Linked DNA regions of Homo sapiens. The protein of the gene in region 1 purifies or fractionates together with the protein of each later gene. This does not show direct contact. Each region holds a gene or a part of one and is shown on either strand. Other genes may lie near its edges.

Region 1 (7,029 bases):
GCTCAAGCCCCCTTCCTCCTCCGGTCTCACAAGGTCCTGTCCAGTTGACCTTTCCACCCTAGGGGGTGACAGGCCTTGGGACCCCAATCCACAGTTGGGAAATGAAGCCCCAGGGCAACCTCGAAGTCAGGGCCAGAGGCATTTCCTCAGACGGCTCAAGAGAAACCTGGGGTGCCACCTCATAGCTGTGATCCAAGCAACTATCCCCAGGCCCCCCACAGCCCCTCACCCATCCTGCCCCTCCTAGGGTTCCACACCCCAAGCGTCACAGGCTCACACACTCTCCATGTAAACATCTTCATTACATCTTTAATGCTCTCACGTGGAGCTGCTCTGGGTTAAATTACAGCTGTATGCATCCTGAATTCCTGGCAGCCTCCAGTCGACTCAAGTGCTAACGTATTTATAGCATTTAGAGGAGGGAATAAATCCAGAACCTTCCCCATGGGGGCTTCCTAGGCCTTTCCCTCCTGACACATGGCATTTGCCCAGTGGAAGGTCTGCATACACTACCCCTGCATCCCCTCCAGCCAGCAGCGGACAGTGACGGTGGAGAGGCTGGGCACGGGACATGCCTCTGTGCATGCTTGTGTGCATATGTATGCCCAGCGTAAAAAAATGCCCTGCTCTTGTGGTCTGTCTCTGCCCAATGGCTTGCCAGGACCCCTGGTATCAGCCCTGACCCTCCAAGGCTTATGGAGAGGCCAAGTGCAGGGACCCATCTCCCCACTCTCTAAACACTGAACGGCTCTTCCCATAGATGGGATGGAGGTGGGGAATTCAAACATAGACTAAGTTTTTTAGATGTTTTTCTGAAGTGCAATCCCTCACCCACTTTCAGGCAGTCATAACTGCCCCCTCTAGCCTGCAGCCTGTGATTACTGCCCTCAGACCAACAGCCTCTCCCAACCCCAGATCCTCATTAGAGCCCAAGACAGGGAGCCGTTTTCAGAAGCAGGTGAGCCCAGTGAAACAATGCAGTGGAGAGAGGAACCGTGCTGTGCGTGCTTCCCTCTTCCCTGCAGTCCCTGAAGATTGAAGGCAGAGAAGATAGCCTACCCTGATGCTCCACTACATACCATGGGGTAGAGGTCGACTTGGAGGGTGGGGCCAGTGTGGACAATCTCATTCTGCCCGCTGTGCTGGGACAGGCACATGTCTGCCCATGGGCACACTCATGCACATGCATGAGGCCTCTCGGCAGGTCTGGGGGGGCTGCATCCTTCCACTTCCATTCCCCTACTTCCTTCCCCCTCAGCTCCCATCCTAGCTTGGCCCCAGTAACATCTGGTTGCCAAGGATGGGTGGCTGGGAGACCTCCTGGACCCTCCGTAGTATGGATGGACCCTGGGTGTGAATTGCCCTTCTCCTGGCATCCTTGCATACTGGACAGTTTCAGCTCCATCTCTGGGCTTCTCAGGGCCCATAACAGATGCTGCCCTACCCTGTCCCTATAACTTGGGTGGTTTCCTCTCCCCACCCCAGAGGAGGCTCCAGATTCCAAAAAACAGGTCTCTCCCTAACAGAGGGAAACCTCCCCTTTCCTCCCCCAATCCCTCCCACTCCGTATCTCCCTCATTTCCTCCACATTAGCGGGGCAGACCCTGATGTGAGGGATCTGGACAGGGGATGAGGAAGCCAGCAGAGGCTCTTGACCTTCTCAGCATGAGGGATGCCCTCTGTGCCAGGGCCCTCAGGTCAGGAGAAGTCAGTGGTCAGAAGTCCAGCCTGGCTAGGGCCCTCTCTTAGAGTCTAAAGTCAGCAGGTGGGTCTGGAGAACAGCTAGGACCTGGCTCAGCCCTCTTGTGTCTTGGCAGGGAAGATCTTCAGAGTAGGTCTTGACAATCAGGGAGTGGGGAGCTCTGTAGGCACCGTGATGGGTCTCTATCAGAAGTCCAGGCTTGTCCCAGGCCACTCACGCATGGATGGCATTGGCCACATCGGTAAACACCAGCCGGCTGGGTCTCTGCAGTGGGCCCTGGGAGGGCAGAGTAGTCTGCAGGAAGACAGGCAGGGGCATCAGAGACCATGGGCAAGGCCATGCACTCACTGGCCTGGTCACCTCCACCCTCACTTCCTGGTGCCTGCTTATGCTTGGCACTAGCAATGGCTTCTGCCTGGAATGCCCTCCCTGCAAGCTCAGCCTACAAATATGACTTGGCTCAGATGACTCCTCCCCAGCTTGCCCTGTCACCTTGGAGGCACTTACTGTGTTGATTTAATTATGCATGCACTGCCTTTTCCCAGTGGGGGATCAGAGGGCTGGACTCTGTATCCCCAGGCCCTAGCACAGGGGCTGGTACAAGGAGGAACATGGGAAACAAGTATCAAGTGGCCAGAAGTCCCAGTGGCTGGGTGGACCAAGGTTCTCAGTGCGAGTTCCTGAATATCCCAAGGGGGCAATATATCTTGACCCAGGTGATGCAGAGCTGGTGGCAAAACCAAAGGGTCTTCAGACTTCCAGCCTGGATTCTTTCTGAGCCCAAGAAGACGCAAAGAGGCTGGATAAGTCAGGGGCAGGCCAGGCCTGCTCATGGTGCTCTGGCCCTTGGGGATTTGGGGAAATGGTGGCAAGTGGTCAGGCAGCCCAGTGGTTACAACAGGATGGCCACACAGGTACCTATCCCTTTGGACACAGGAGGCAAGTTTGGCTGAGATCTTCACATGCCTGGGTCTGTCAGCCACTGGGAATCCACCAGCCTACTCAGAGGTACCGCTGTCCAAGAGTCTAACCCCATCCACAACCCACTCAGGACCACGGACCCTCAGGAAGCAGAGGAACCTGGGGTCCTAGCCGCCAACAGTCTCTCCCATTAGTCCTTTCCTACTTTCCTAACCAGTACGTGGGGGCACATGGGGCAAGAATTAGGATTTTCAATTGTGGAAGAGAACACTGAGGCTCAGAGATGCCAGTGGGGCTCCCAAGATCAGCAGGCTATGGGGCAGAGCCAGGCTGTATCCCAGGACTGCCTTGGCCTGGCCTTGCGCTGTGAGTTTGTGGGTGGCCCCAGAGCAATATGACCACTTTCTGAACAAATCTGGAAAAAGCCGTATACCCAATACCTGCCATCTGACCACAAGGCAGGTGCTAGAAAGCTGCATGAGAAAGGAGGGAGGGTGAGGGTGGAGGACAGAGGATGCTGCAGGCGGGGTGGGGAGCCTGGTCAGTGCCCACCTTGCCCTGCATGGCCTGCACAGAAGTAGCAGCCTGTACAGAGGCGGCGTCCCGCCCATGCTCCAGCAGCTCCTGCTCCAACTCATCTTGTTCCTCCGTGGGGTCGAAGTTGTACATGGGCATGAGCTGGTGGCGTAGCTTCTCCAGCCTGGGGATGGGGGCAAAGGCTGCTGGGGACAGGGCAGGCCCTTCCCCTCCCAGCAGCCCTCCAGGCCCTGCCTCCTGACTAGCTGAGCCACAGCACACAACCATGCTTAGGGCCTTAAGGTTTCCCTTGAAATGGGAAAAAATGACAGACATTTTTGCACCTATAGTACCAGCTCAACCCCTTAAATGGGTAGCCAGGGAGGCAGCAGTTACCCACTCCAGGGTAAGGCCATACGCCAAGTAGCTGTCATCCATGGGCCCCACAGAGATCACCTAGGCTAGGGCCTTGCTGTAATCCACAGCGTCTGAGTCTCAGGTGGGACTGGGGAGCCAGTAGCAGTCAGCTCAGAGCAGCAGGGCAAGGGTGGCTGGGCAGTTGGGTGGGAGTAATCCCAGCCTTCCCCCTCCCTGCCATCCCCAGTCCCAGGATTATACCCAGTTATCTAGAATCCTCACACCTGCCTGCCCTGTGTGTGAGATCCTTGTGCAAGGGGGGCCCTCAACCCTCCCCAAAGGAAAGTGGTCACCCCCAACCATGAATGGGCAGGACAGGCCTTGACTCCCTGATCAGCTTTTCACCCACTTCCTTCGGAGCCCAGCCCAGCACTCCCCATGGCCTCAAGTTTTGGGTGGGATTTGGGTTTGGGTGGGGAATTACCTCTTCTTCTTCCTGATGTACAAAACCTGCAAGAGAAGGAGCAGCATCAAATGGCAAGGAGAGGAGGCCCTGAGGAACCCAGCAGCCCTTCTGGATGGGGACATGCTGAGGCTGATGAACAAGAGACCCGTGGGTCCCCGTCCTAATGACACATACACCACTCCCCCTTCACCTTCATGCCTCTTTTTTTTTTTTTGAGACAGAGTCTTGCTCTGTCACCCAGGCTGGAGTGCAGTGGCACAATCTCGGCTCACTGCAACCTTCGCCTCCAAGGTTCAAGTGATTCTCCTGCCTAAGCCTCCTGAGTAGCTAGGATTACAGGTGTGCACCACCACACCCGGCTAATTTTTGTATTTTTAGTAGAGATGGGGTTTTACCATGTTGGCCAGGCTGGTCTTGAACTCCTGACCTTGTGATCCACCCGCCTCGGCCTCCCAAAGTGCTGGGATTACAGGCGTGAGCCACCACACTGGCCCCATGCCTCCTTTTGACATTGTTAGCTGCAGACAGTGCCCAGACTGAGTCTGGGGACTCAAGAGGCTCCCTCCAGCCTGGGAGCCCACACAGTTAGGCCCGGCCTGGGGACTGGTGGGCCCCACCTATTGGCTGGGCTGCCAATACTAACTGTAGCTCCAGCCACTCAGCACCTGCCTGTGGCTCCCCAGGGCTGAAGAAGAAAGGGAAAACTTCAGCACATTCCCTCCCCTCAACTCTTCCCAGGCTCAAAGCCACATGCAGGCAAAAAGTAAAGGGACCCGGTAAGGTAGCACATGCCTGTAGTCCCAGTTACTCAAGAGGCTGAGGCAGGAGGATCTCTTGAGCCCAGGAGTTCAAGTCCAGCCTGGGCAACATACTGACACCCCGTCTCTACAACATGTAAAAAGAACCAGAGACAGGCAGTGGCCAGACTCTGTAGCGTGTAGAGCAGTGGCTCTAGGCAAGGCCCTGAGCTGGTGGTCTCCGGAGTTCCTATGGGAGGCTGACGGCCCCCAGTGGACTAAGGTAGGGGTGGGGGACTGGAGCCCCTAGGCATCAGCCCAGGTCAACTCCCAAAAACTCTGATGCAAGAGGAACCTAAGAAGGCCCCTAGGTCCGGTCCCCCATTGTACAACCTTGAAGATGAGGGCCTAGGCAGCCTGAGAAAACATCTAGGACCTCTAGGCCAGAGTAAGAAACCCTGTACAATGCCCTGAGGAGAGGGAGGAAGTGGGTAAGACTTGGGGGACCACCTTGGGCGGGGAATCCAGGGACTTCTGCCATCATCCTGCTCTTCCCTAAACTGGCAGTTTCTGACTACCAGGAGCATGACTACCTCTGCCTCGGGGAAAGCACAGCCCTGTGGTTTACCCCAAATCCTCCCACATTCTTTGTGCCCCATTCACAGCTTGAATCTGGTTTGATTTCCAGCCTGGCCCAGAGCTCCTCCTGCAGGACCCCCAAAACCTGAAAAGAAACTAGGGTATCAATCCTCACTCTCCCCTCCTGTCCAGGGTTGCATGTAGGGGTGCTCCCTTGCTCTCCTGTGGGTAGGCTGTGACAGGAACTCTGGGGTCTTCTGGCCTAGCCCCTGCCACCCTGAGCAAGTGGATCCAGCCCCAGCCCCAGCCCCTGTGGTCCCCACCTCTCAGCCCTTGCCCCAAGCCCTCCTCCCTCCCCTGAGACCCTGGGATTCAGAAGGATCTACAGAAAAGGCCAGAACCTTTACGCAATTTCCATGCCTTTTCCCCTCTTCCTCAGCTAACAGCCACCCCCACACCTTCCTTTCCAAATCTTCCCTACCCCTCACTGTCCAGCAGGTGCAGCCCCCTCTCCTCCAGGAACCTCCCCCACCACTGATCCTGGTCTGCCTGTACCAAGCACTTTTCCTTCCTGGGTAAGGCAGAAAGCCTGGTGCAGATTTGCTCCTCCTTGTACCCACGGCCCTGCTTGAGGCTGGCATCGGGGAGAGGAAGCAGCACTCAGTGAGCACCTCTGGGCCTGTCTCCGGTCCCCAGGAGCTATCTTCTGCCCTCCGCTGCCTTTGTCCTACGAGCTTCCTACCTCTGATTTTGGCAAGAGGGGCATCCACCCAGGCCTTCTGAATGTTCCTCTAGAACAAAGAGTAAGAGAGCGTTCTCAAGTTCCAAGGACAAAACCTTTCACTGAAAGTAACGAGGGCAGTTTCTAGGCCCCATTCTGCCCTTAAGGGTGCCTCCATCTGCTTACCCACTGCATGGGTGCCAAGGGAAAACACTGGCATCCTGCCTTACCTCCACCCAGGAGACCTCTCAGGCCCTGGCCTCATTCTGCCTGTGCTGCACCCTGGGCCTGCTTGCTGGCTGGCAGTTGCTCCCTGGCAGCAATCTGGAGCCTGTGGGGCCCATATGGCAACCCTGGTTTAACAGCAGCTCCAACCAGGCCATGATGGGCCATCCACAGCCCTACTTGTCAGAGCAACATGCTCCTAAGCCCAAGGCCAGCCATCAGAGCCTGCGAGGAGCAGTGGGCAGAATCCTACCATTGCCAGGCATACTGGGGAACCTCAGGGGCACCCCATCCTCCCTAGTCTCAGCCTGCACGATCTCCAGTGGTCCCTCAGTGACATTCTGAGTGTCCATGTATCATCTTAGGGGGACAGCCCATATCCTTAGGGACTGACACCAGATCAAGAGGCATCACACTCACTACTGAAGGATACCTGCAGCCCTCTCCCCAGCCCCCTTCCTTCCTGATGGCTGCCACCTCCACCCCTTCTCATGACACGGAGGCCAGGCTTCCACTTTGAGGTCTCAGCTCTAATTTTGCTCCTCAGCTGTTCCTAACCACCTAGTCTGGAAAGCATTCCTGCTTTCCTGCTTGAGTCCCCAAGTCAGTCCCTGCAGGCTTCCCTTGGAACCCTTGGTTTTTATCTGTTTCCCACTCCCTGTAAGAACCACAGGGCAGGACCTTGTCTTCCCAGCCTCTATTGGGTTCCAAAGGCCTGGTCCAGGGCAGGTACTCAGTAAATAATTGCCAAGTGAATAAATGAATGTTCACTGCCAACAGCCTCCCATGCACAGATCATCTTACC
Region 2 (7,029 bases), on another chromosome or scaffold:
AGCCACCACACCCGGCCATCAGTTTTCACATAAGATCATAAATTGTGTGTTGCTCAGTATCCAGAAATTGTCTCCCTTTGGCCAATATGTAGAGTGAATTCTGTGTTTAGTTTTCTGTGAGTGCTTTGTTTGCGCCTTTTTTTTTTTTTTTTTTTTTTTTGAGACGGAGTCTTGCTCTGTCACCCAGGCTGGAGTGCAGTGGCACAATCTTGACTCACTGCAGCCTCCGCCTCCCGGGTTCAAGCGATTCTGCCTCAGCCTCTTGAGTAGCTGGGATTACAAGCACGTGCCACCACGCCTGGCTAATTTTTTTGTATTTTTGGTAGAGACGGGGTTTCACCATTTTAGCCAGGATAGTCTCAATCTCCTGACCTCGTGATCTGCCCGCCTCAGCCTCCCAAAGTGCTGGGATTACAGGCATGAGCCACCGTGCCGGCCTGTTTGTGTCTTTAATGCGGAGACCAAGAGTCTTTTATACCAAAGTAAGTGCCTCAGGGTATTTACAGCAAAAGTGATTTGAAAGCATGGAAATTATCCATCACCAGAGAGAGTAAAGTAAATTCTGAGCACCTCTGTGGAAACTTAGGTGGGTATGTAGATAGAATGTTTTAGGAATGTGTGAGGTGCTATGATCTCTTGCTTGCAGGAATTCTCAGCAAGGCATCAAAAATTTAATCTTTATATTGATAGGACATATTTTGAATACCTTCTGACTTTTTCCTTTGCTTTTATTTGAATTTCTAGTGTGGAGCTAGTCTGCTGTTTTAGGGATTCTTTAAAAACAACCTAAAGAAGGGCTAATTTTAGATAGATTTGGACCGGTTTCAGATGCTAATCAAGAAATCTGTCATCTTATCGCCCATCACTCTCTCCTTTGGGCTGCCTGTGACACACCTCTCCATTCTTTAACCAAGACCCGTCTGATGCCTTTGCCCATGCTCTAGAATGCTCTCCTTAGAATTTTACATAGCTAGCTCCTCACTTTCTACTCTGTTTCAATTTCACTTTTTCAGCCAGAACATCCTGTTGACTCTATCCAGAATAAGCCCTGTGAACCTATTGAATAATTTATTTTAAAATCAGTGACTTTTAAATTTAAATTCTTTTTGGAGACAGAGTCTCAATCGCCTAGGCTGGGGTGTAGTGGCACAGTCACAGTTCACTGCAGCCTCAATCTCTTGGGCTCAAGTGATCCTCTTGCCTCAGCCTCCTGAGTAGCTAGGACCACAGACATGCGTTACCACACTGGGCTAATTAAATTTTTTACAGAGACAAGGTCTCACTGTGTTGCCCAGTCTGGTCTGGAACTCCTGGGCTCAAGTGATCCTCCTGCCTTGTGGATCCTGCCAAAGTGTTGGGACTTACAGGGGTGAGCCACTGTGCCCCAGCCCAGTGATTTTTTAAAATAAAAATCTGGATACAAAATGATCTGGAGAGAGAGGTTATAACTGGGTATGTTAGGGTTTTTCTGCAACTTCTGATTCTTTTAAAACAGGCATGATTTGCTGTAACTTTTAAAAAAGGGCCAGGTGTGGTGGCTCACATCTATAGTCCCAGCACTTTGGGAGGCCGAGGCAGATGGATCACTTGAGGTCAGGAGTGTGGGACCAGCCTCGCCAACATGATGAAACCCTGTCTGTACTAAAAATACAAAAATTATCTGGGTGTGGTGGTGGGTGCCTGTAATCCCAGCTACTGGGGAGGCTGATGCAGAAGAATTGCTTGAACCCGGGAGATGGAGGTTGCAGTGAGCTGGGATCGTGCCTCTGTACTCCAGCCTGGGCAGTAGAGTGAGACTACCTCTCAAAAAAGAAAAAAGAAAAAAAAAAGAAACTTCTGAAAAGTAGACATACGAGTTTAAAGAACCTTTAGGAATTTAGTTCTTAGTGATTCTGTGGGTCTTTTATGTTATCACTGTTATTCTCAAAGTGAGAGCTCATTTAGCATCATTCAGTAGAGGGAGATTACACATAAAAACGAAGAGGCATTGTCTTCCTTCCTTTTCTTTTTCTTTTCTTTTCTTTTCTTTTCTTTTTTTTTGAGATGGAGTTTCTCTTGTTGCCCAGGCTAGAGTGCAATGGTGCCATCTCGGCTCACTGCAACCTTCGCCTCCTGGGTTCAAACAGTTCTCCTGCCTCAGCCTCTCAAGTAGCTGGGATTACAGGCATGCGCCACCACGCCTGGCTAATTTTGTATTTTTAGTGGAGTTGGGGTTTCTGCATGTTGGTCAGGCTGGTCTTGAACTCCTGACCTCAGGTGATCCGCCCGCCTTGGCCTCCTAAAGTGCTGGGATTGCCACTGTGAACCACCGCGCCTGGCTCCTTCCCTCCTTTTTGAGATAGACTCATACATGCAGAGAATGGACTGAAGAGAGAATATCTTTACTGGGAATGGATTATGTGATTTTGTGTCTGCTTTTTTGTGGCCTTTTGCTTTAAAAAAAAAAAAAAAAGGATGAGTTCAAGCCTGGGCAACGTAGTGAGACCCCTCTTCCCCAAAAACCATAAAAAAAATTAGTTGGGTGTGATGGTGTGAGCCTGTAGTCCTAGCTACTCAGGAGGCTAAGGCAGGAGGATCACTTAAGCCCAGGAGTTTGAGACTGCAGTGAGTTATCATGGCCACGGCACTCCAGCCTTGACAACAGGGCAAGACCCTGTTTCTTACCAAAAAACAAAACAATAGGATGACTGAATGCAGAGGTGAGAGACACTACTGAGAATTTTCTAACTTGTTCCCATGGAATCAGCACTTAAAGCAGTAACAAAATGATTTTTGTTTAAATGGAGACTTTTGACACTTCTTGTCTTTGGAAGTGTATGAACATGGGACCCGTAAGACTCATGGGCAGGAAAATAGGTATTGACATTCATTGTTCTTGTTTTAGTGTTCTCATTCATTCATAATTTTTTTTTTTTTTGAGACAGAGTCTCACTCTGTCACCCAGGCTGGAGTGCAGTGGCACTATCCCAGCTCATTGCAACCTCTGCCTCCCAGGTTCAAGCAATTCTCCTGCCTCAGCTGCCTGAGTAGCTGGGATTACAGGTGTGCACCACTACACCCGGCTAATTTTTGTATTTTCAGTAGAGACAGGGTTTCACCATGTTGGCCAGGGTGGTGTAAAACTCCTGACCTCAAGTGATTCATCTGCCTCAACCTCCCAAAGTGCTGGGATTACAGGCGTGAGCCACCACACTTGGCCCACACTTGATATTTTATTTTTTAATTTTATTTATTTTTGAGACTGAGTTTCACGCTCTGTTGCCCAGGCTGGGGTGCAGAGGCACGATCTTGGCTTACTGCAACCTCTGCCTTCTGGATTCAAGCAGTTCTTCTGTCTCAGCCTTCTGAGTAGCTGGGATTATAGGCATGAGCCACCATGCCCAGCTACTTTTTGTATTTTTAGTAGAGATGGGGTTTCACCATGTTAGCCAGGCTGGTCTTGAACTCCTGACCTTGTTATCTGCCTACCTTGGCCTGCCAAAGTGTTGGGATTACAGGCATGAGCCACCATGCCTGGCCCATTTTTTAAAAAATTTATTTTTGAGACAGAGTCTTGTGCTGTCGCCCAGGCTGGAGTGCAGTGGTGCGATCTCAGATCACTGTAACTCCCACCTTCCAGGTTCAAGCAATTCTCCTGCCTCAGCCTCCCTAGTAGTTTGGGATTACAGGCACGCGCCAGCACGCCCGGCTAATTTTTGTAGTTTTAATAGAGAAGGGGTTTCACCATGTTGTCCAGGCTGGTCTCAAACTCTTGACCTCAGGTGATCCCCCTGCCTCGGCCTCCCAAAGTGCTGGGATTACAAGCGTGAGCCACCGCACCTGGCCTAAAAAACACATATTTTAATATTTTTATAGATCTTTTGATTGATTGATTGAGACGAGATCTCACTCTGTTGCCCAGGCCAGAGTGCAGTGGTGTAATCCCGGCTGACTGCAACCTCTGCCTCCTGGGTTCAAGCGATCCTCCCATCTCAACTTCCGGAATAGCTGGGACTACAGGATCATGCCGCCATGCCTGGCTAATTTTTGTATTTTTTGTAGAAATGGGTTTCCCATGTTGCCCAGGCTGATCTTGAATATTTGGGCTCAGACATTCCTCGCACCTCAGCCTCCCAAAGTGCTGTGATTACAGGTGTGAGCCACTGCACCCAACCTATTTTCTTTTGTTGTTGTTGTTTTTTTTTTTTTTGAGATGGGGTCTTGCTTTGCCACCCATGCTGGAGTGCAGTAGCGCGATCTTGGCTCACTGCAACCTCTGCCTCCCGGGTTCAAGCAGTTCTCCTGCCTCATCCTCCTGAGTAGCTGGGACTACAGGTGCTCACAACCACACCTCGCTAACTTTTGTATTTTTAATAGAGATGGGGTTTTACCATGTTGTCCAGGCTGGTATTGAACTCCTAACCTCAGGTGATCCACCTGCCTTGGCCTCCCAAAGTGCTGGGATTACAGGTGTGAGACACTGTGCCCGGCCAACCTATTTGCTTTTTCTTTTCTTTCTTTTTTTTTTTTTTTTTTGATATGGCATTTCACACTTGTTGCCCAGGCTGGAGCGCAATGGTGCGATCTCAGCTCACTGCAACCTCCGCCTCCCAGATACAAAGGATTCTCCTGCCTCAGCCTCCTGAGTAGCTGGGATTACAGGCATGTGCCACCATGGCCAGCTAATTTTGTATTTGTAGTAAAGATGGGGTTTCTCCATGTTGGTCAGGCTGGTCTCGAACTCCCAACCTCAGGTGATCCGCCGGCCTCGGCCTCCCAAAGTGCTGGGATTATGGGTGTGAGCCACCACGCCCGGCAGCGGCCAACATTTTTTCATATTTTTAAAAATACCATTTTTTTTTTCTGAACTGTTTGTTTTTGTGATTTTTTTTTCCTTTGGTTGGGTTTTTTTTTTTTTCTTTTTTTTAGAGATGAGGTTCAGGCTGGAGTGCAGTTGTGCAATCATGGCCCACAGCAGCCTTGACCTCCAGGGCTCAAGTAGATCCCACTTCCTCAGCCTCTGAGCAGCTGTGACTACAGGCATGCGCCACCATGCCTGGCTAATTTTTAATTTTTTTTGTAGAAACAGGGTCTCGTTATGTTATGCAAGCTGAACTCACTATGTTGCCCAGTCTGGTCTGGAACTCCTGGGCTCAAGTGGATCCTCCTGCCTTGTGGATCCTGCCAAAGTTTTTTTTTTTTTTTTTTTTTTTTTTTTGTTGAGACAGAGTCTGGCTCTGTCGCCAGTCTGGAGTGCAGTGGAGTGTCTTGGCTTGCTGCAACCTCCACCACCTGGGTTCAAGCGATTCTCTTGCTTCAGCCTCCTGAGTAGCTGGGACTACAGGCGCGCGCCATCACACCCAGCTAATTTTTGTATTTTTAGTGGAGATGGGGTTTCACCATGTTGGCCAGGATGGTCTTGATCTCGACCTCAAGTCATCTGCCTGCCCCAGCCTCCCAAAGTGCTAGGATTACAGGTGTGAGCCACTGCGCCTGGCCTTTTTTTTTTTTTTTTTTTTGTAGAGATGGGGTCACACTGTGTTGCCCAGGCTTGTCTTGAACTCCTGGCCTCAAGACATTTTCTTACCTCAGCCTCCCAAAGTGTTGGGATTGTAGGTGTGAGCCACCACACCTGGCCATGGTTAACGATTCGAATAATGTTCACACTGCCCCTAGCCAGAGTAGATAGAGATATGCCCCTGCACCTAGTCATTCAGACACTTTCTGAAATGAACAATCTATGTTTGTTTTCTGGCGGGAGTGGGATGGGAAGGGGTATGGTTGTTGCTTTATGAAATAATAATTTGTTAGTTAATTATTACTTAAGCTCCTAAGACATTTTTTTTTAAAGACAAAGACTAGCTCTGGATTAAGACATCTTTTTTTAAATTTGAGATTTCTGAATGTGAATATCTAAATGAGATACCATTATGTGTCCCTGCTGTAGTGACACTCATATTTTTATTTAGTTAAAAATCACAAAAGAACGCTACGCATGGTGGCTCATGCCTGTAATTTCAGCACTTTGGGAGGCCGAGGTGGTGGATTGCCTGAGGTCAGGAGTTCAAGACCAGCCCTGACCAACATGGTGAAACCCCGTCTCTACTAAAAATACAAAAATTAACTGGGCATGGTGGCGGACGCCTGTAATCCAAGCTACTCCGGAGGCAGAGGAAGGAAAATCACTTGTACCTGGGAGGCGGAGGTTGTAGTGAGCCAATATCTTGCCATTGAACTCCAGCCTGAGCTACAGAGTGAGACTGTGTCTTCAAAAGAAAAAACAAAACAAAAAAAAATCACAAAAGAGGACACCAAACTGGGTATAGTACCAAACTGGTTCAGAGGGTAGATTAGTAGATTGACTATTCACTGGATTGCTGAAGTGTGTGCCATAGGTCACACATCCAGTTCTGTGCTTGAGAGAGTACAGGATTCCTGCTTCTTGAAATCTTTACCTTACCTTTAACTACATGCTGCTTACTTATGTTGTACTGAACTTTGCTTCTCAGGAGAACTGATGTTAGAACCTACCCAAGTTATTTTGCTCTGCTCTGCACTCAATGAATACAGCTGTTATCTAAATAAGTTATTAGGTTGTGGTCAGAAATATCTGCATAGACCAGTTTAATAATGTATGTAATGTTATATATATTTAAAAAGCTGTTATTTGGAAATGGGTATATATAAGTTCTGTTTTTTACTTTGAAATCTTGACCAGTGATATTTGATTATTGCTTTGAACATAGCACTGTGTTTTCTTTTCTTTTTTTTTTTGAGACGGAGTCTTGCTCTGTCACCCTGGCTGGAGTGCAGTGGCGGGATCTCGGCTCACTGCAACCTCCGCCTCCTGGATTCAAGCGATTCTCCTGCCTCAGCCTCCCGTGTAGCTGGGACTACAGGCGCCCGCCACCACACCCGGCTAATTTTTTGTATTTTTAGTAGAGATGGGGTTTCACTGCGTTAGCCAGGATGGTCTCAATCTGACCTCGTGATCTGCCCGCCTCGGCCTCCCAAAGTGGTGGGATTACAGGCATGAGCCACCCACCCGGC
Region 3 (6,043 bases), on another chromosome or scaffold:
TTTAAAAACAATCAGAAATGTCCTGTGTTTTGTCTACCAATGTCCATTTTCTTTTCACAGATGAAAAGTATCTCTCTCGCCTCTTGCCATCAATTGCATTCCAAATTCTTGGATCAGTCTCTAGGAGAACAGGTAAGAATTGTAGTTCTCCCAGTTTAAAAGAAGGGGCCGGCTGGGCATGGTGGCTCGCGCCTGTAATCCCAGCACTTTGAGAGGCCGAGGCGGCCAGATCACCCCGAGGTCAGGAGTTCGAGATGAGCCTGGCCAACATGGCGAAACCCCATCTCTACTAAAAATACAAAAAAATTAGCAGGGCATGGTTGCGGGTGCCTGTAATCCGAGCTACTTGGGAGGCTGAGGCAGGGAGAATTGCTTGAACGTGGGAGGCGGAGGATGCAGTAAGCCGAAATCACGCCACTGCACTCCATCCTAGGTGACAGAGCGAGACTCCGTCTCAGAAATAAAGAAGGGGCCTATTCTATCAACAGTCTAAGCTTACATTTGTTATTTTGTTTTGTTTTGAACCTATCTTAATGCTTGGGGGATTAGATGAAATACAGACATACACTCAAATATATGTTCAAATACACATATGTCTTGTCAACACTGGGTCTGTATTGGGATTACTCTTTGCTCCATTTAAAATTCCCAATAAGGGTCTGGGTGCGGTGACTCACGCCTATAATCCCAGCACTTTGGGAGGCCGAGGCAGGTGCATCACTTGAGGCCAGGAGTTCAAGACCATCTTGGCCAATATGGTGAAACTTCATCTCTACTAAAAAGACAAAAATTAGCTGGGCATGGTGGCGCATGCCTGTAGTCCCAGCTACACAGGAGGCTGAGGCAAGAGACTCACTTGAACTGGGGAGGCAGAGGTTGCACTAAGCCAAAATCACCACACTGCACTCCAGCCTGGGCAACAGAGCTAGACTCTGTATCAAAAAAAAAAAAAAAAAAGAGAGAGAAATAGTTATTTCTATGTAGAATGGCGGAAGGAATTTAATGGAGGTAGAGATGAAAGCTGTTGTTAAAAATGTAAAATGGGGCTGGTGTGGTGACTCTCACCTGTAACATCAGCACTTCAGGAGGCCGAGATGAGCAGATCTCTCGAGGCCAGGAGTTCAAGACCAGCCTGGCCAACATGGCGAAACCCTGTCTCTACTAAAAATACAAAAATTAGCTGAGCACGGTAGCCTGTAGTCCCAGTTGCTGGGGTGGCTGAGGCATAAGAATTGCTTGAACCCAGAGGCAGAGGTTTCACTGAGCCGAGATCGCACCACTGCACTCCAGCCTGGGTAACAAAGTGAGACTCTGTCTCAAAAAATACCCAAAAAACAAAACAAAACAAAACAAAAAATGTAAATGGAGGGCCTAGAAGGAAATTGTTTCCTTATTCTGTGTGACTTTAAAGGGTAGAACTAGTCCAGATAGATCAAAGTTACATGGAAATGGGTTTGGATGCCCTATGAGGAAGAACTTAAGAATGATCTAGGCCAGGCACGGTGGCTCACACCTGTAATCGCATCACTTTGGGAAGCTGAAGCAGGCAGATCACCTGAGGTCAGGAGTTTGAGACCAGCCTGGCCAACATGGCGAAACCCCGTCTCTACTAAAAGTATAAAAATTAGCCAGGCATGGTGGTGCACGCCTGTAATCCCAGCTTCTCAGGAGGCTGAGGCATGAGAATCATTTAAACCTGGGAGGGGGATGTCACAGTGAGCCGAGATTGCACCACTGCCCTCAGCCTGGGTAACAGAGTGAGGCTCTGTCTTTAAAAAAAAAAAAAAAAGGAATATCTAAAAATGGAGCCTTCATCATTTAATAGTTGTTAAATAGTTGTAATACCTAGTTTGTTTTTGTTTTCTAATTGTAGAATACCTATTTTAGCTTATGCTCTACTAAGCCTTATTTATTTCAAAATCAATGTCCAATTTCTTCCCCCACCCCGTTTTTTTTTAAAGGTTGTTAAGAATTTGTTGTTCGCAGCCAAAGTCTTGTATTTACTGGAACTTTATTGTGAGGATAAGCAAAGTAAGATAAAAGAAGACCTGGAAGAACAAGAAGCTTTAGAAGATGGTGTGGCCTGTGCAGATGAGAAGGCGGAGTCTGACGGAGAAGAGAAGGAAGAGGTGAAGGAAGAGCTCGGCAGGCCGGCCACGCTGCTGTGGTTGATCCAGAAGCTGTCCCGGATTGCAAAACTGGAAGCTGCTTATTCGCCGAGAAACCCCTTAAAGGTGCGATGAATGCACAGAATGACTGACAGTAGTCATTTCTCTTTAAAAAGTATTTTAATGATATTAGTGATCCTCCTAAGTCCCTAGAAACTTTATCTTTGAACCCCAAACTGCAGCAATAACATCCGTCCCAAAATAGACTGAGCCCTGTTTTCTCAATTAATGCTGTGTCTATGATTGAGTGCTAAAGAGAAGTCTTTCAAATGAAAAAAATGATCTGTACTTTCAGAGAACATGCATCTTTAAGTTCCTCGGCGCCGTAGCAATGGATCTTGGGATAGACAAGGTAAAGCCGTATCTCCCAATGATCATAGCTCCTTTGTTTCGGGAACTCAACAGCACCTATTCAGAGCAAGGTAACCCTGCCTCGTCTGTTCTCCTGCCTTTTGCACATGAGGATTTCTAACTTCTCTCCTGAATGTTTCCTTCTTCCTTTCTGTCCTCCCTCCCTGCCTGAGATTTATTTTTATTTATATATATATTTTAATTATATATTATATACTTATATATGTTTATATTTATATATATACACACACACACACACACATACATTTAAAAAAGAGAGAGAGATGAATAGTGGTCTATGTTATGCCAGGCTGGTCTTGGTCTCAAACTCCTGGCTTCAAGCAGTCTTCCAACCTCAGCCTCCCAAAGTGTTGAGACTATAGAAGTGAGCTACTGTACCCAGCCAGAGTTTATTTTTAAAAAGAAAACTTATATCAAGATAATTAACAAATAGGCATATTTGTATTATATTTGATTGCCCTCTTCTGTATGCTTTCTGCTGTCCCAGAAAGAATGTTTCTCACATAAAAGATGATGCTTTATCCTCAACATAGATTAAATAGTCAAAGAAAACTATGGTTCAGGGTAGTTTTAAACCTCATAGCACAATGAATAATAATGAATAATAAAATGTCATTACATTCTCATCTTAAAAATTATAGGCTGGGCGTAGTGGCTCACGCCTGTAATCCCACACTTTGGGAAGCCAAGTTGGGAGGATCACTTGAGCCCAGAAGTTCAAGACCAGCCTGGGCAACATGGCAAAACCCCATCTCTACAAAAGATACAAAAATTAGCTGGGTGTGGTGGTGCACAACTATAATTGCAGCTACTTAGGAGGCTGAGGTGGGGGGATCTCTTGAGGCTGTGAGGTCGAGGCTTCAGTGAGCCGTGATTGCACCACTGCACTCCTGCTTGGGCAACAGAGTGAGATACTGTCTCAAAAGAAAGATTATATGGCAAAAATATAAGTATTATCATTTTTATATGAAATAGTTTTAAAATATCATTTTAACATTTCTTCTTTTTCCTTGCCTGATACATTTCCCTCACTTATTCTAATTGTTGGTAATAACAGGTAAAGAGGGAACTGGGGGCAGGAAGGAAAGGAGGTAAAGTGAATGTTCAGAGTTTGAAAATAAAACAAATGAAGCAAATGTCAAAGCAAGAGCTTTTACAGTCCTACAACCTTGGGAGAAAGTTTCCTCACTCTTACAAAGGAAAAAGCAATGGTAAAGGTTGAGGCTGCTGACAAAAGCAGGTTCAGGTGTGCTTTGGTTCAACCCAGTCAACATTTAATGAGCATCTAATATCTGCCAGGCACTAGGGATTCAACAGCAGGAAAGTTTTCAAGAAGCTTGTGATCTAGAACAGATGTCCTGAGCTCCTGTGAAATTGAAATTGGGGGTTATTTGTATATAGGGGTGAGTGGCAGAGAAGGGTGGGAGAAATGGCTTTTTTGTCAACTTCACAAAGGAGGCTTTTGACACTCCCCCGCCAAAAAAAAAAAAAAAAAAGTTACTGTGGGCAGAGCTAAGCCTCTGTGACCCATCATGGATTAGAGAGGGAATCTCTTACTTTTCCCCCCATCTGCAAGAGCTCAACAGGTAAACAGAGGTAATTCAAAACGTTTCTGTCAAGGTCCCAAGTTACTTTAATGTCTTCAGGGCCAGGTTTCCGCTGGGAAGTGGGCCTCATGTTCTCTGATTTCTTATTGCATCCTGGGTGAGGTGGTGGCTGGAGTGCTATGTCTAGCATTGCTGGTTTCCCCATCCCAGGAACATAGAGGCTAGTTTTATATCAGTGTTTAATGTTGAAGTAACAGTGATAATGCTGCAAGAGTTGAAATTTTGTTTTGTTTTATTTGGGGTTTCTTGCCAGATCAGTAGCTGGATATAAATGTTGTACATATTGTTGATTTTGTTGATGTTCAAATGTGTCCTTTCCTACCTGTCTCTGATCATTACTCTTTGTGTGTGATTAGATCCTTTGCTGAAGAATCTATCCCAGGAAATCATAGAATTACTCAAAAAGCTGGTTGGGCTTGAGAGCTTCTCATTAGCCTTTGCCTCTGTACAGAAACAGGCTAATGAGAAAAGGGCACTCCGGAAAAAGAGGAAGGCCCTGGAGGTAAGTTTGCTCTTTGAAAATATGGCATGTTCACTGGACTTGATAACTACTAAGTGTGCATGTTTGTGTCACACTTACACTTAGGGAGGATCAAGGGTTTGAGCGGTTGGGGACTTTATAGCTGGGACTTCAGATTTTCTTTAATGAGCATGTGTTTTTTACATTTATTTCTGTATTTGATTCTTATTGGTTTAACATTTACTTTAAAAGTAATATAAAATTTCTATTCTCTTTTCCAGTTTGTAACTAATCCTGATATTGCTGCCAAGAAAAAAATGAAGAAACACAAAAATAAAAGTGAAGCAAAGAAGAGAAAGATAGAGTTCCTGCGTCCAGGATATAAGGCCAAGAGACAAAAAAGCCATAGCCTGAAAGATTTAGCAATGGTGGAGTAATGTCTCCCTGTGCTGATACAAGCATGAACTTTCTGGAATATTCTGCTAGTCTGAAATTACAGTAGGTTGTCTGGGGTAGGGGGGAGGCGTTTTTTTTTTTTTTTGAGACAAGGTCTCACTCTGTCACCCAAGGTGGAGTGCAGTGACGACATCACAGCTCACTGCAGCCTCAACCTGGGTTCAAGTGATCCTCTCACCTCAGCCTCCCAAGTAGTTGTGCCTCCTAGGCACACAACACTATGCCCGGCAAATTTTTTGTATTTTGTATTTTTTGTAGAAACAGGATTTCGCCATGTTGGCCAGGCTGGTCTCGAACACCTGGGCTCAACTGATCCGCCTGCCTCGGCCTCCCAAAGTGCTGGGATTACAGGTGTGAGCCACCCTGCTCAACCAGGTTTTATTATTTAAGTTAGTTAAACTTTGGATAGATTGTATAATATATAGTTTAATGTAATCATGCTCATATTTTTTAAATAAATAAAACACTATACTACTGCTGGGTCTTCACTGTTTAAAAAGCATGTGACACTAGTCAGAGTTTAAAATATAATTTGTAAATAAAAGGATACATTTTTAAATAGCAAGAAAAAATGTAGAAGTTAGCAATTAATCAAACAAAAGATTTGCAAATACTGCTCTATAGTACTTGCTAAAATTTTAGGAAAAGGCAGTAAGAAAGATCTGCACAAACGGAACTATAACCATGTTCTTGGCTAGGAAGATTCAGGATCATAAAACGCTACTTCTTTTTCCCAAGTTGATCCTTTGGTTAAATGTGTATCTGAGCAAAATCCCAAGAGTTCTTCACGTTAACCCAACAAGCTAATTCTAAAATGTATATGGAAGATGATATTAAGCCAAGAATAACCATGACACTCTCACAAAAGTAGAACAGGATGAGGGGCTTGCCCTATTGGATATCAAAAGTAAGACACAAAAACTATCTATAGAGAGAACGTGTAATAAATCCTACTTCATTAAGAACTTCTGCTTAGGAAA
Region 4 (7,029 bases), about 58 Mb from region 1:
AAAGCAAACTTGCTGCTGATGTAATTTTGAAAACTCTTGATTTGATTAACAAACTTAAACCATTGGTTCCTGGTATGGAAGTAAGCTTCTACAAAATACTTCAGGTGAGTTTAAACTCTTCAAACATTGAAGTTTATTCATACATAAATGGTCCTAATATAAGTTTCTGTTTTAATATTCTTAATCTTTAGAAGATAATTCTCTTAGAATTGGCAATGAGAAGAAAGTTTAAAGTTGTTGTCTTAAGCAGTTATAATAGTCTCACTGCACAGTTATTTTATATACTTTCACAGGAATTGAACATAAGTGCTCATGACACTAATGTAGAGAATGTTCACAATAGTGCTGCTTCCTCAGCCTTTTCCTTTCTTGTGTTGTATTTGTATATTTCTTCATTTGTTTCTGTTGGCATTGGAGGAAGAGTGATATTTGTTTTAGGGTTTTTGTTTTTGGTTAGGGTTGATGTAGGGTATTAAGGGGATAGGGAGACAGCTGGAAGAAAAGGATTGTGATAATTAGAAGGGCTGTGCAGAAAATAGCTAACTCACAAATTTCAATGATAATAGTAGCTGAATATGATCTCTAGCTGTTATCAAAAGGCAAAGTACAACAAATTTAGTTCAAAGTTCTAACTGGCTTTTATTTATGATTCTAGAATTTGGCAGCCTCATTCTATAAAATAGAATGAATCATTCCCCTGGGCTAAGCAGAGAAGGTTGACTTTATAGACCAGAAAAGGGCTGAAGAAAGCACAAATAGGGAACTAAAAGCAGATTGGTCATTTCAAAGTTACTTTTCCTATAGAATTATAATAAAGGGGGCTTCCTTATTATACTAACTCAGGTTGACTGAAATCTCCTGGTTTTTTGGAAAACTGGCCCATTTCAAAGTGCAGTTTGATTACATGGCACTCATCCAAGTGACTCCTTTCTGGTTTGATCTGGTCTGCTAAAGCATAGTGGAGGAGACTACTCCAAAATATTAGCCTCTTAAAAACTTTGTGTAATAATATCTACAACACCTACCTTTACAACAGATGTTTAACAAAAATGAGTGAATTAAATTACTGCAGTAGCTTAACAGAGACATCTCTAGTGACTGTATAGACAGTGTAGAAGCCAAAACTGAAACCTTAGGCAGGGACCACTGGCATGTTTTGAGATTAAGGGACTGAGTTCAAATGTTGACTCTACTGGTTCTTAGTACAGGCTTGAGTAAGTTATTTCACCTCTCTCGACTTCAATTTCCTCGACTACAAACTGGAAATAATGAGGCTTACCATTGAGGGTTTTGGAGATAAAGCTCTGCTCTTATCACAGTTCTGTGACACTGGATTATACTCAAGTACCTACAAGGTACTCAATATTTTAATTATAAGGGATTTATATTTTAATATTTTCTTCACTAATATCTCAATGTATTTTTAAAGGAGTCAAACTGATGTTATGTCCATTATTTAAGATGTTTTTCATAATACAGGTTGAGCATCCCTAATTTGAAAATCTGAAATCTGAAATGCTCCAAAAAACAAAACGTTTTAAGTACCAAAATGAGGCTCAAAGGTGATACTCAAAGGAAGTGCTCACTGAAGCATTTTGGGTTTTTGGATTAGGGATGCCCAACCAGTAAGTACATGTAAATATTCTAAAATCTGAAAAAAATCAGAAATTTGAAACACTTCTGGTCCCAGACATTTTAGATATATGTTGATGACTTGGGGCTTACAATACTAATGTAAAATATTTACTGACATAAATGATTGAAGTAACTGTATTTTTTCGATCTTTAAATTTAAATGTTCTAATTTAATTTGAATTTTACTTTTTATTTTATAGCCTTAATTTGGAAGTGATTGGCCATTTTTTTCTTTTAAATGATAGCTTGGAAAAAAACATTAATTCTACACATCAGTCAGTTGTGGGTTTTTTAATCCACGAAAATATATAAGGCATAATTTTTATAGGCACATTTGAAAGCATTCAAAACCTTTGCCAGATTTTTTTAAACTGTTCATATTGATTGCATTGCAGTGTAAACAGCTATAACAAGGTATAATATATTCAAACTATATAGACTATAATATATTCAAACATTAGAAACATTTTAGAATTTGCCTAGAATTAAGATTTACATATATTTACTCACCTCCTATCTAAAAGAGCTGACATTGTTTATTCTTTCTGCTGCTTCTTTTTTGGTTTCTGATTTATTTAGGACCCACGTTTGATTACTCCTTTGGCTTTTGCTTTAACGTCAGATAATAGAGAACAAGTACAGTCTGGACTGAGAATATTATTGGAGGCTGCTCCACTGCCAGATTTTCCTGCTTTAGTGTGAGTTGTAATCATTTGCAGTGTATCTCTTGTGGTGTTGGAATACCCTGCTATGTCTCTTTAGTCCTCAGTATAGATACACAAGCAAATTAGTGAATTGAAGACTTCATTGTAATAGTAATTTTTCAAGTGATTTCTAAAAATGTTTGATTCTTATAAATGAAAAGTTCAGATGTATACTCACTCAGGGAAAAGCTAGATCCAGGCAGTTAAATGTTCTTCAGGTACTATCCCTCTATGTCTCTAGCCACTTCTTTTTAATGATAACTTCTGGACACTCTTAAGCCTACATCCTCCCAGTTTAGTTCCTCCATAGAAAGAGCTTTTCCTTCCTGACTGTTTAAGGAAAAGGTCTAAGCATTAGTCATTGACCAGGCCTGGGTTATCCATGAGAACGATGTGGACTAAAAGTTAGTTGGGATAGGAGAATAGGAGAGTTCCTAAAGAAAAAAATCTGAACTTTTATCAGAAAGTGGAAAAATGACAACCAGGCAAAATTTTCTACTATACTCGTTACTTTCAAGCAATAAGAATATTTGCAATTATGTTTGAAAAAAAATTCAGATTTCAGGGCTCTCTGAACTAAATGTCTATTAGGAGTCTGGTTTAAAATTTTTTTAAGTCATTTATATGTATGAATTTGTAAAAATGGTTTGAATAATTTGAAGTAGTTGATAAACAGGTAAGATATTCCCTGTATACCGGGATCAGCAAACTGGCCAGTGGACAGGCATCTGTTTTTGTAAATAGTTTTATTGGAATATGGCCACACCCACTCATTTTTATACTCTGTCTATGTTGCTTTCACTCTATAAAAGCAGAATTGAGTAATTGTGACAGAGACCAGATAGGTCCTTGAGTCTAAAATACTTACTATCTTGACCTATAAGAAAAAGTGCTGGTCCATGCTATATGCTATTCACTGATTTAGCGATTCCACTTTTCAGAATTAGCAATTTAGGTCATCATACCTTAAGAGTTAAAGTATGGGATGTAAGACCTAGAGAACATATAACCAAAATTCCCTTAATTTTATAATAAATATTTTTTTAACAGCAACAACAAAAATACACAGGAAGCTTTTCAAGTTACAAGTTAAAAGTGGTCTGTAAAGCTGCTCTATTTTGTGATGGCCTGCTTGCATAAACTGGTAATCTGACATGAAACAAAACCTTAAGAGCTTCAAAGGGGAATCTGCAGCCTCACTGAACATGGAAGTCTTATCCTCTGCCTCTGTGTGTGAGGCCTTCCCACCATTTTGACTGTGTCTTGGCATTCCCTGTCTTATTTGTGTTGTAAATAATTTTCTCTTTGGGCATTATCTCAGATGTCCATTTTATGCTTACTATTTAATGCCCTTATTTGACATTATCTTGGGCGTTTAATAAACTGAATGTATATTATGGATGCATTGGTAGGTAGGGTTTTTGTGTGTGTGTATTTACTTGTTTGTTTTCGAGACAGGGTCTCACTCTATCACCCAGACTGGGGTGCAGTGGTGTGATCATGACTCACTGCAGCTTCGACCTCTGGGGCTCAAGTGATATTCCCAACTCAACCCCCTGAGTAGCGGGGACCACAGGCTTGTGCCACCACAACTGCTTAATTAATTTATTTTTTTATAGAGGGGTCTCACCAGGTTGCCCAGGCTTGTCTCGAACTCTTGGACTCAAGTGATCCTCCCAAAGTGCTGCGGTTACAGGTGTGAGCCACCATGCCCAGCCTATAATAAATTAGGCTGAGTGCCTGCCATCTTGCAGTTTGCACTTTAGTTAAGAGATAAGTGAAAAAAATATTTTGTTTTGTGGTAGAAAGCGTGTTCCAGATAAAGGAACAGCTCATATGAAGGCCTGAGGTAGGAGAAAGAGAGGATTTTAAAGGGTTAGAATGGAAGTCAGGTTGGTGAAAAGTATGTACTGAGTGAGAAAGGAAAAGGACTAAGGACGTAAAGGCCAGGTGATATCACCCATGATAAGAACATTATTCTGACCAGTACCAATAACTTTGTACTTATTACAGATAATCCACACTCATAAACTAGTCTTACAATGCCTCCAAACCAGAGGTGAAGCTGTCATTATAAAAGGTTAGAAACAGAAAAGTGGGTGCTCTGGAAAATTCAGAATATTTCCCAAGACTTCATTTCATCATGGTCTCCAAGATTATTTGAAGACTTCTATTCAAAAAAAGGACCCATTCTTAAAAATTCCCTAATTCTGCACTAAGTCTGCCTTTTCTTCTATTTTCGTATAATTTTTTTTTCCTTTCTTTGACTCCCATTCAGACTTGGAGAAAGTATAGCAGCAAACAATGCCTATAGACAACAGGAAACAGAACATATACCCAGAAAAATGCCCTGGCAATCATCAAATCACAGTTTTCCAACATCAATAAAGTGTTTAACTCCTCATTTGAAAGATGGTGTTCCTGGATTGAATATTGAAGAATTAATAGAGAAACTTCAGTCTGGAATGGTGGTGAGTGAAAAAATAGCAATTATAACCTGGTACATATTAGCTATATGTCAGTCCCAATTATAACGTGTATCTAAACACTGTCAGGTACAGATTTCACTATTGAAACCTTAATATAAGAAATAACAATATTCTGGAAAATTTGGAAATAAGAAAAATCAGTCAAAATTTCAACATTTTGCCGGGTGCGGTGGCTTACGCCTGTAATCCCAGCATTTTGGGAGGCCAAGGAGGGTAGATTGCCAGAGCTGAGGAGTTCAAGACCAGCTTGGGCAATATGGCGAAACCCCGTCTCTATTAAAAATACAAAAAATTAGCTGGACGTGTTGGCTCATGCCTGTTGTCTCAGCTACTCTGAAGGCTGAGGCAGGAGAATCACTTGAACCCAGGAGGCAGAGGTTGCAGTGAGCCAAGATCATACCACTTCACTCCAACCTGGGTGACAGTGAGACCCATCTCAAAAAAAAAAAAGAAATATTTGTGACTTACCTGATGTAGCATTTGTTTTTATTTTGTTACTCATCATTAAGTTTTAATGATTTAGTTTTGAAGTAGGCATTTATTTTGTCATTGTGTCAAAATATTTTATTAAAATTTTAAGTTTTTTTACTCTTAAAATGTAGGTAAAGGATCAGATTTGTGATGTGAGAATATCTGACATAATGGATGTATATGAAATGAAACTATCCACATTAGCTGTGAGTATAAGCTTATTTTAACAATGTGTAATAAGCTTTAATAGATGTATTCCTAAAATGAAAATTAATGATATGTTTTCTTGTAGTCCAAAGAAAGCAGGCTACAAGATCTTTTGGAAACAAAAGCTCTAGCCCTTGCACAGGCTGATAGACTGATTGCTCAGCATCGCTGTCAAAGAACTCAAGCTGAAACAGAGGTGTGTAGAATATAAAGACACATCTGATTTGTAGAAAAATTAATAAGTAAAACATGCAAAATATTAGTTATGTATTTGTTACTCTAATTGAAGTAAATTCTCCTTAGCATTTGACATGCCTCCTTCCTTCTTCCTGAAATTCTGTCCTCTTTAATTTTGGTTACATCGTTACCTGATTTTTTTTTGCTACCTTGTATTATTTTCCTATGTTATTTATTTTGTACCTTTAAGTGTTGGGGACTCTGGGACTTATATTCTAAACCTTTTTCCTTTAGTTATGTGTTCTGTGGTTTCAATGGTTACCAAAATAGTAATGTTCCTAATTTTATATGTCAAGCACAGATCATTTTCCTGAGCACTATGTGCCTATGTTGCTCCATTTAAATATACAGCAAATACCACAAACTCAGCATAACCAATAATGAACTAATCACCCTTCCCTTTTTAAAATTATTCTTATGTATTCCCTCTTCTGTTTTTAGTGTTCTACAAATAAGAACCCTGGAAATCACAGTTTTTACCTCCTATAATTATTCACCAAGTCCAGTTGATTCTACCTTCTAAATATTACTCTTTTCTGCCCTATCTCTGCTTCTACCACTATTTGTTATAGGCTGGATCCTTTTCATTTTTTGTATGAATCATAGCAGAGCAATTAGTCTTCCTACCTGTAGTCTTCTACCCTCTTCTCAGATACTCTACAGCCAGTCATCTTTCCTTGGTTCTACCCCCTTCACCTAGCCGCTCCCCCAAGGATCTCTAAGGCAGTAAAATGATCCTGTCCCTCTTGTGCTGAGTATCTTTCACAGTAGCTGCTATTGCTTTCAAATATCATTAAAATTCTTTAGTTTGGCATATAAGGATTCTAACTATATAGGCCTCAATCCACATCTTTCATTTCTGCGCATTCTTTGCAGTCAGCCATGTTAGGCCACTTTGCTTTTTCTGAAACTTGACATATTCTCGTATTTCCTTGTCGTGGCACTTGACTTTCCATGTCTGGAACACCATTTCCTCTCTTCTGCCTAACTCATAATCCTTCAGATTTCAGTTAAAATATCCTCATTACCCAGAAGCCTACTCTGGTCTCCTTCCCACACGTGTTTGACGATCCTTCCTCTGTGTATCAAACCTACGCTTATCTCTTAATAACATTTTTCAAACCACGTGGAAATTCTTTTTTCCCTCACTCATGGTATCAAAGACTGCTTCTATAGCTCCAGGCCCTAGCATAGCACTTGGCACATAATAGGTGCTCAGTAAATTTGGCATTGTATTATGTACATATATAATGTATACCTTAAGAGTGAACTTACTGCAGTAATAT

Evidence for each region.
Region 2: the proteins of C3orf18 (region 1) and SPAG9 purify together in Homo sapiens (co-immunoprecipitation; 2 studies listed by BioGRID and IntAct, with this or other methods). This does not show direct contact.
Region 3: the proteins of C3orf18 (region 1) and UTP20 purify together in Homo sapiens (co-immunoprecipitation; 2 studies listed by BioGRID and IntAct, with this or other methods). This does not show direct contact.
Region 4: the proteins of C3orf18 (region 1) and CIP2A purify together in Homo sapiens (co-immunoprecipitation; 2 studies listed by BioGRID and IntAct, with this or other methods). This does not show direct contact.

What each region holds. Positions count from the first base shown.
Region 1 is NC_000003.12:50,557,742-50,564,770, forward strand, and holds the end of C3orf18 (uncharacterized protein C3orf18), read right to left. Parts: intron 4,007-7,029; coding exon 3,981-4,006; intron 3,324-3,980; coding exon 3,176-3,323; intron 1,997-3,175; coding exon 1,916-1,996; 3' UTR 1,406-1,915; coding exon of another isoform or gene 923-1,405; 3' UTR 284-922; downstream 1-283.
Region 2 is NC_000017.11:51,110,840-51,117,868, reverse strand, and holds part of SPAG9 (C-Jun-amino-terminal kinase-interacting protein 4), read left to right. Parts: intron 1-7,029. UniProt on the Homo sapiens protein: The JNK-interacting protein (JIP) group of scaffold proteins selectively mediates JNK signaling by aggregating specific components of the MAPK cascade to form a functional JNK signaling module.
Region 3 is NC_000012.12:101,381,080-101,387,122, forward strand, and holds the end of UTP20 (small subunit processome component 20 homolog), read left to right. Parts: intron 1-60; coding exon 61-132; intron 133-1,961; coding exon 1,962-2,234; intron 2,235-2,463; coding exon 2,464-2,590; intron 2,591-4,503; coding exon 4,504-4,649; intron 4,650-4,888; coding exon 4,889-5,044; 3' UTR 5,045-5,539; downstream 5,540-6,043. UniProt on the Homo sapiens protein: Part of the small subunit (SSU) processome, first precursor of the small eukaryotic ribosomal subunit.
Region 4 is NC_000003.12:108,558,430-108,565,458, reverse strand, and holds part of CIP2A (protein CIP2A), read left to right. Parts: intron 1-4; coding exon 5-104; intron 105-2,214; coding exon 2,215-2,333; intron 2,334-4,617; coding exon 4,618-4,810; intron 4,811-5,430; coding exon 5,431-5,505; intron 5,506-5,591; coding exon 5,592-5,702; intron 5,703-7,029.